2 linked regions of the Homo sapiens genome follow. The protein of the gene in region 1 interacts with the protein of each later gene in a biochemical or structural test. Each region holds a gene or a part of one and is shown on either strand. Other genes may lie near its edges. The genes, in order: AGPS and GNPAT.

The links.
Region 2: the proteins of AGPS (region 1) and GNPAT form a complex in vitro, tested with the Homo sapiens proteins (one study listed by BioGRID).

Annotation. Positions count from the first base shown.
Region 1 is NC_000002.12:177,493,574-177,497,496, forward strand, and holds part of AGPS (alkyldihydroxyacetonephosphate synthase, peroxisomal precursor), read left to right. Parts: intron 1-3,923. UniProt on the Homo sapiens protein: Catalyzes the exchange of the acyl chain in acyl-dihydroxyacetonephosphate (acyl-DHAP) for a long chain fatty alcohol, yielding the first ether linked intermediate, i.e. alkyl-dihydroxyacetonephosphate (alkyl-DHAP), in the pathway of ether lipid biosynthesis.
Region 2 is NC_000001.11:231,272,102-231,276,024, forward strand, and holds part of GNPAT (dihydroxyacetone phosphate acyltransferase), read left to right. Parts: intron 1-210; coding exon 211-290; intron 291-1,820; coding exon 1,821-1,961; intron 1,962-3,119; coding exon 3,120-3,219; intron 3,220-3,303; coding exon 3,304-3,397; intron 3,398-3,923. UniProt on the Homo sapiens protein: Dihydroxyacetonephosphate acyltransferase catalyzing the first step in the biosynthesis of plasmalogens, a subset of phospholipids that differ from other glycerolipids by having an alkyl chain attached through a vinyl ether linkage at the sn-1 position of the glycerol backbone, and which unique physical properties have an impact on various aspects of cell signaling and membrane biology.

The sequences.
Region 1 (3,923 bases):
TGAAGGTGTGAAACTCAATGATGTGTGTTAGGGGACTTCAAATTGTTCTATGTGGCTCAAATAGAGGGTGGGGTTAGAGTTGTTACATGAGATAAAGTTGGTTGGGTGGGCTAGGGCTTTGCAGGATAGATTTGGATTTTGTCTTGTCAGCAGTGGGATTTCTTTGAAGAATAAAATCAATCAACTTTACATCTTAGCTCATTCTGGCAGCATTGTGCAGGATAGATTAGAAGGGTACATGCATGGAGGAGAGACACTAGGAGATGAAACAGCTCAAGAAGCAAAGTTTGAGGGCTTTGAGCATGGCAGCAGCAATGGAGATAGAGAACGGATGATAGATTTTCAGAAAATCAGTTTGCTAACTGGATGTGGAAGGCTAAATAAAAGGAGGAGTTGAAGACAACACCTAGACTGATTTGATTGGGTAGATTAAATAACATAGAAGAATGGGTGGTGGTCTTGGGAAAAAGATATGATAATGGGTTGTAGTTATATTGTGAAATTTACTTTGGGATTTAAGTTTATAGAATTTAAATACCCTCAAAACAATTCCTAAAATCATGAGAGTGATCGTTCAGTAATAAATACTAAAGGCAAAGATAGGCAGGCTTTTGTCATGTCTAAAAGTAAGCTGAGATTTTAATTTAGGGAAGCATGGTTATAGTTACATAGAAACTTAACTAAAGTCAGGTTCGTAACATATTAAGAGTTTTAAAATTACATTCTTCTAAGTTAGTCATAATTGTTTATTTCTTTAAGTAAATTACTTTCAAAATACTATACTACTGACAAAAGTTTAAGATAAATATGTTCTATAAGTAATGAAATACTTAAATCAAGTGAAAAACCACTTGTGTGTTTTGGCCTGCATTTAAAGATCTAGGTCTTAAAGAGAGCCATGCATCTAATTAATAAGACTGTGTTATTCGTTTATATGTTATTGTTGTTGTAAACAATGTTAGACCTAGGCATTTGTAAAATTAGTTATGATTTGGCCATACTTATTTATAATTGGAGTCCATAACAATTTAAAGTGAAGGTTTAAAGAAAGTCTTCCTGTCATCCCTCTTCCATGTTCTCATTACTATACCTGAAAACATACTTACTTGCTCCCCTCTAGCTTGCTCCTGTCTGTGGTATTATAGGTTCTACCTTCTCTAGTCTTTACTGTGTCTCCCCTCTCTCTGCCCTTTACTTAGCCACCAAAGTGATCCTTTTGAAATACAGATCTGATCATGCTTTTTGGCTGTCTATATAACCTTTTTTATTTCTCAATTTTAATTGAAGCCTTTACATTAATATATCCTGCCATGGCTTCATGATCAAGCAAAAGAGGAAATAATGCTTAGCACAACAAAAGGTGCCCCAGACCCTGCACTAACCGTATGGCTGATTGGTCGGTGTTTATACCACATTGGTTGTTAACAAAGCACATGCCATATTATTAGTTGTTAATATTTTTAATATAATCTCTACTTCAGGTACAACTCTTAATACATTATATTGACATTATCTAATTTTAGTATATTGAAATGATATATATCATTGTGTATATTGAAATAATCCAAAGATGTCCTCTATAAACCAAAGTTTCTCGAATTTAGGGTATGTTTCTTAGTCATTTTTCTATCACCTGCACTTATCACGTAATAGGCATTTATATGTTGATTCAATTAATCATCAAATTGGCAAGGGGGTGAACAAATCCTAGATGGCATAGTGCTGATTACATTGTCAATAGCACACTTTATAAAATTCTATTCATGACTGTTCGTCAGAGTGGTATCCCCACTTTACAAATGACTCAAAGACTCATTATTTTGACTACGGTCCACAAATCATACGTGGTAGAGCTAGGGATGAACCCAGATTTGTCTGACTACAAAGCCCAGGAGTTTTTGCACTGTCTGTAACCACTGCTTTAAAATATAGATAATTAATAAATCCTGTTAAATGACACGATTAACATTGAAATAACAGAAAATTCACTGATCAAACTGTCCAGCTAGTAAATTTGGAAGTGAGTTTAATATTTTAAAAAACCACAATAGCAGCTGGGTGCAGTGCCTCACGCCTGTAATCCCAGCACTTTGGGAGGCCAAGGCAGGCGGATCACCTGAAGTCAGGAGTTTGAGACTAGCCTGGCCAACATGGTGAAACCCTGTCTCTACTAAAAAAAAAAAAAAATACAAAAATTAGCTGGGCATGTTGGCGAGCACCTGTAGTCCCAGCTACTCGGGAGGCTGAGGCAGGAGAATTGCTTGAACCGGGGAGGCAGAGGTTGCTGTGAGCCGAGATCACACCACTACTCTCCAGCCTGGGTGACACAGTGAGACTCTGTCTCAAAAAAAAAAAAAAAAAAAAACAAACCCACAATAGCTAGAATATATTTAAAATGTAATTATATTGTTAGGCAACATATTTAAGAAAAAGTAAAAGATAATATTATCTAGTTGATACTAATGCTTGACCCACCTAAAAGTCAGTATCACTTTTACAATAATTTATTCTTCAAAGCTATCATGTCACCTTAGTATCACAGATGTATGTGAGTAATTCTACTAGCATTAATGGAAATTGTGCATATAAATCTCGATGAGTTAAGTGAACATTTACCCTTAAGGATTATTTCATATCAGAGTAGTATCATATGGAGTCCGCATGCATTGTATAAAGATAAGTGAATCTTTTGTATAAAGAATAGATAATTTCAACTTCTGCCAAGAACACAACATGCACATTCAATATATAAATGTTTATATATGTATTTCTAATTGTTGTTAATATAGGATGAGTTCCATTTGGGACCAGAAATGAATGTTTTGATGATACGTTATTTCTATCTTTATAGATATTAGAAATTGTCTCTTAAAGCGCTAGTTATACTAGGAAGCATCTCTGATAGTTTAAAATAAAAGAAAAAAATCCCCAAGCGTATCTCTTACTTGTGATCCAGGAGCTCAAAAAGATTGCTAGGTTGATCTCTATCTAACCTGCAGTTCAGTTTGTTTCTTTGTTGTTGTTTTTTAATGCCTCAGGTATAGCATAGATATCTAATTCTTAGCCTCTGGTTAAGACTTCTATTACTTGGTCTTTTATGTAACACAGTTTCCTATTATAATCAGCAAAAATGTAGTAAGTAGTATTACAGATTGAGATTCTTATAAAAAATGGATAGAAAAAAACTACCAGTGATAGTTTTAGAAACAGCTAGTTTGCTCTTTGCACCTATTTTAAAAGAAGGAAAGGAAGGGCCTACACTTTAAAAACAAACAAAATCCCCAAACCTTAAAGGCTTTTTTAAAAAAGAAAACTTTTTATTTGGAGATAATTTTGACTTACTTAAGACTGAAATTCTTTATAAAAATTTTGTATAAATGGTATGACACCTTTTTCTGAATTGGGCTGCTAACACTGAGGCCAGATGCATGACTCTTAAATGTAGCAATCATAGGAGTTGAGTCGTTACTACTTTCTGAAAAGTGAGAAAACAGTAAAAGGTTTTCACTCAATTAAGCTTAATCTGCAGGCAAAGATGTTAATTTAACAGACTTTGAGACTCCATTTATGTTATTTTGGCAATTTTAACTCTCCGGGTGTGATTAAGGAAGCAATTGCTAGTTTTATGCCAAGAATTCTGGATGAATTAACAATTAATTAAGAAACAACCTTAAACTTGGCATTAACTCCATATTTGGATAGTTCTGAATAGTTTCTATATAATTAAAAAAAAAAGTAAAACCAGCCACCATGGGTGTTCTTAATGAAATAAAAATTAATGAAGTAATTTTATTATGTGTAAACCATACCGTTGAAAGAAAACCTAAACTATGTGTAGTATTAATTACATATAGTGATTTGACTTAAAAAATCAAATTGATAATGGGTTTTGTAAATAAAAAGTTGTTTGTGACATTTGAAAG
Region 2 (3,923 bases), on another chromosome or scaffold:
AAAACAAAAAACAAACTATGCTAGACCGTAGTTTGCTCTGTGGGTAAGATTTGGGTTTAATTTAGCTTCCCTCAGGGGACTTAATTCTTGTCCCTGTTACATGAATAAAATATGCCTTTGAAATACATTTTGTGATAGTAAGGACTTCCTGGTACTCCCTTAAAGTTTAAAGGGCAATGTTGTAATTTTACATGATGCATTTATTTCCAGAGGATGTCTACAGTTGCTTTCGCTTCCTACGTGATGTTTTTGCAGATGAGTTCATCTTCCTTCCAGGAAACACACTAAAGGTAAAGTGCTTACAACAAAGAGCAAGTATGTTTGCAGTGTGAGTTCTAGAAATGTTAGGGGTGAATTCACAGATGTGTCTCAGGCAGTGTGCCATCCCTTTCTTCAAGGCAAAGTGGGGCAGACTTCAAGAGAAACTGGGGCGCTCACAGTTCAGCAGACTCTAGTTTGATTCTTGATCAAGTTTAATTAATAACTTAGGGATTATATGGTGAGAGGAGAGTCATTCTTTGAACTATCAGTGTGGCCATTACAACTAAACTAACTTTATTTTAGTAAACGTTTAAAAATCAGCACACAGCCGGGCGCAGTGGCTCATGCCTGTAATCCCAGCACTTTGGGAGGCCGAGGCAGGCGGATCACGAGGTCAAGAGATCGAGACCATCCTGGCCAACATGGTGAAACCCCGTCTGTACTAAAAATACAAAAATTAGCTGGGCGTGGTGGCGCATGCCTGTAGTCCCAGCTACTCAGGAGGCTGAGGCTGAGGCAGGAGAATCACTTGAACCCGGGAGGTGGAGGTTGCTGTGAGCCAAGATTGTGCCACTGCACTCCAGCCTGGTGACAAGAGGAAGACTCCATCTCAAAAAAAAAGAAACCAAACACAACAAAATCAGCACACATTTTCCTGTTAGCAAGTTGTTAGAATGAGTCACCCAGGCAAGTGCCTTTTACTTTGAGAGTAGTGAGTGCTGGTCCTGCCTGGTCTAGACAGCTGAGGGGTCATCAGGCTCGCAGAGCTGGACTGCTGCTGGGTTGAAGTGGGAAGTGACAGTAGATGAGAGGCATGTTAGGTGTTTGTGTGCTTTAAGGATAAGAGGTTTGATTCTGTAGGGAGTGGAACAGGAGTGTTGGAAACTTTTTTTTTTTTTTTTTTTTTGAGGTGGAGTCTGGCTCTGTCGCTCAGGCTAGAGTGCAGTGGCGCAATCTCAGCTCACTGCAAGCTCTGCCTCCCGGGTTCACTCCATTCTCCTGCCTCAGCCTCCCAAGTAGCAGGGACTACAGGCGCCCACCACTACGCCCGGCTAATTTTTTATATTTTTAGTAGAGACGGGGTTTCACTGTGTTAGCCAGGATGGTCTCGATCTCCTGACTTCATGATCCGCCCGCCTCAGCCTCTCAAAGTGCTGGGATTACAGGCGTGAGCCACCGCGCCCAGCCAGAAATTTTTTAACCATAGCATAATTCTAAGTATTTTTAGGACTTGCTGTATGTATTTCCTATTTAAATTAAGGAGTGGTTCTGCAAAGTAAAAGAAAATCCATCACCCAGGTTGTGATTTGTAAGGCTCAGAAATGTTGTGTTTGAAAACATTTTGAATGTAGAGCAGATGCTTCTCTGGCTACTATCTCACAACCAGAATTGTTCTGGAGGTTGGGGAAATAGCTGGTATTCTGTTGTCTGAGGGCATGTGGCTGCATATATTCAGATAGGCAGTGTATCCATTAACCTAGATGAGGGGGTACATGTATTCAGATGGGCACTATACCCATTAACCTAGATGAACATTATGGCTTCCTCTTCCCTTCTAGGACTTTGAAGAAGGCTGTTACCTGCTTTGTAAAAGTGAAGCCATACAAGTGACTACGAAAGACATCCTAGTTACAGAGAAAGGAAATACTGTGTTAGAATTTTTAGTAGGACTCTTTAAACCTTTTGTGGAAAGCTATCAGGTATGTAAATTTGGCAAGTTCTCCTTCATGCCCCCCATATCAAATATAATAAGACATTCTCACCCTGTGCTTATTTCCAGTCTGAAGGGCAGGTATCTTCCCCAGGCAAATGGAAGAAGGAGAGAGAGTGACTAATACGATCAGTGATTTCACCTCACCAGTGAGACCTTGCTCCCCGCATTCAGGAGGAAGCTTGGTTCATTACAGACCCAAGAGGACAACAGCTTAGTGATGCCATGGTCACAGTATTCACAGGACCACAGTTACACCCACGCATCATCTGTCATACTGTGTCTCATGTCTTAATGAGGCCTTCATGTCAGTCAATATGTAACCTCGAGGTTTGATATATATCAGGCACTCAGTAAAGGCAAGACTTGAGTGATACATAAAGTCAGTTACAGATTACCAGATGTTTATGTTGGAAAGAAAAAGTTCAAGTGCAAGTTCTGAAAGCGTTTGTCAGAGCTCTTGGGAGTAGTTAGAGAGATGGGATGGTATGTTGCCCAGCAGGAATTGTGGCAGGACTCAACGGGAGAGAAAGAGTCTGAAACATAAACTGTAGGAAGGACTTCCACATGCTTGAGAGAAGAGGATGCTGTGACTCGGCTCTGTTCATATAATACATGCACTGGCTCTGGGCACCTGGACCCACTTCCTGGTGCTTGTGGTCCGTGAAATAACTCATTCAGCCTCCTTGCACAAAGTCTAGCACTTACTGAGCATTTGATAAATGCTAGTTCTACCCTTAATCACTGTTCTACAGTAGAAATCATCAAGTATTTTAGGGCATGGTACTTTCTTAGGTGTATTTAGAGAAAAAAAGCAAAGTTATTAAAATCTGACCCCTCTCTTCCCAAGTAGCATAAGAGATACGAAGCTGATGGTAATTAACTTGTACCCCTTGAAGTGAGAAATTATACTTTAATAAATGTCATTATTATTTTAAATCTTTTTCTAATTGTAAAATGTAAACTCAAAGGAGATGCCCTAAAAATTCTTTGGTTTTTCTGGGCTCATTCCTTGGAGGGTCTTTATGCTGCTCTCTTGTGATATATCCTTCTCTTAAGAGGGGCAATGTAAAGTTATTTACTATTCTGTTGAACTTGGCTATCCTTTTTCTCTTTCTGTTCCCCTCATCCTTCCTCTTAAAATCAGATAATTTGCAAGTACCTTTTGAGTGAAGAAGAGGACCACTTCAGTGAGGAACAGTACTTGGCTGCAGTCAGAAAATTCACAAGTCAGCTTCTCGATCAAGGTCAGTCACTGCTCTGTGGGTGCTGATTTCTTTTAGTTGAGAATAGAAACTGGTCAACTAACTCTTCCTCACCCCCAATTTTAGGTACCTCTCAATGTTATGATGTATTATCTTCTGATGTGCAGAAAAACGCCTTAGCAGCCTGTGTGAGGCTCGGAGTAGTGGAGAAGAAGAAGATGTAAGTACTGTACAAGATCCCATGAGTGCTCAAGGAACAAGGAAATGAATGACATTTGAGCTCAAAATCCAGAGAGACATAGAAATGGATGATCTAGGAAATGCTATATTCTACTTTCCTTATCCATCCTCTAATTAGTTAAGTCAGTGTGAGTTATCCTGAAAATTGTATGTGGTTATGAATAGAAATGCAACTGAAGCAAAGAAAGGAAGAAATAACTTTAGGCCAATATTTTTGCTTTGACTTAATGTTGAAATTTATAATTACAAGAAAGATTTTCGGGAGTGTAGTGGGCATATGAGTGTAGACACACATAAATACACACATAATACATATATAGATACATACCTGTATATGTATATATAAACATATAGATGTATGTTCTTCTAAGTGGTTGAATTTAACAGTGATAAAGCTTAATAGTAAACTCTGGCAGTCATGTCTCTTATGTGGTCAGAAGAATGAAGCAAGAAGCCAGGAGGTGGGACAGGAGCCTGAGGCCTTTCGACTACTTAGGCCCAGCCTT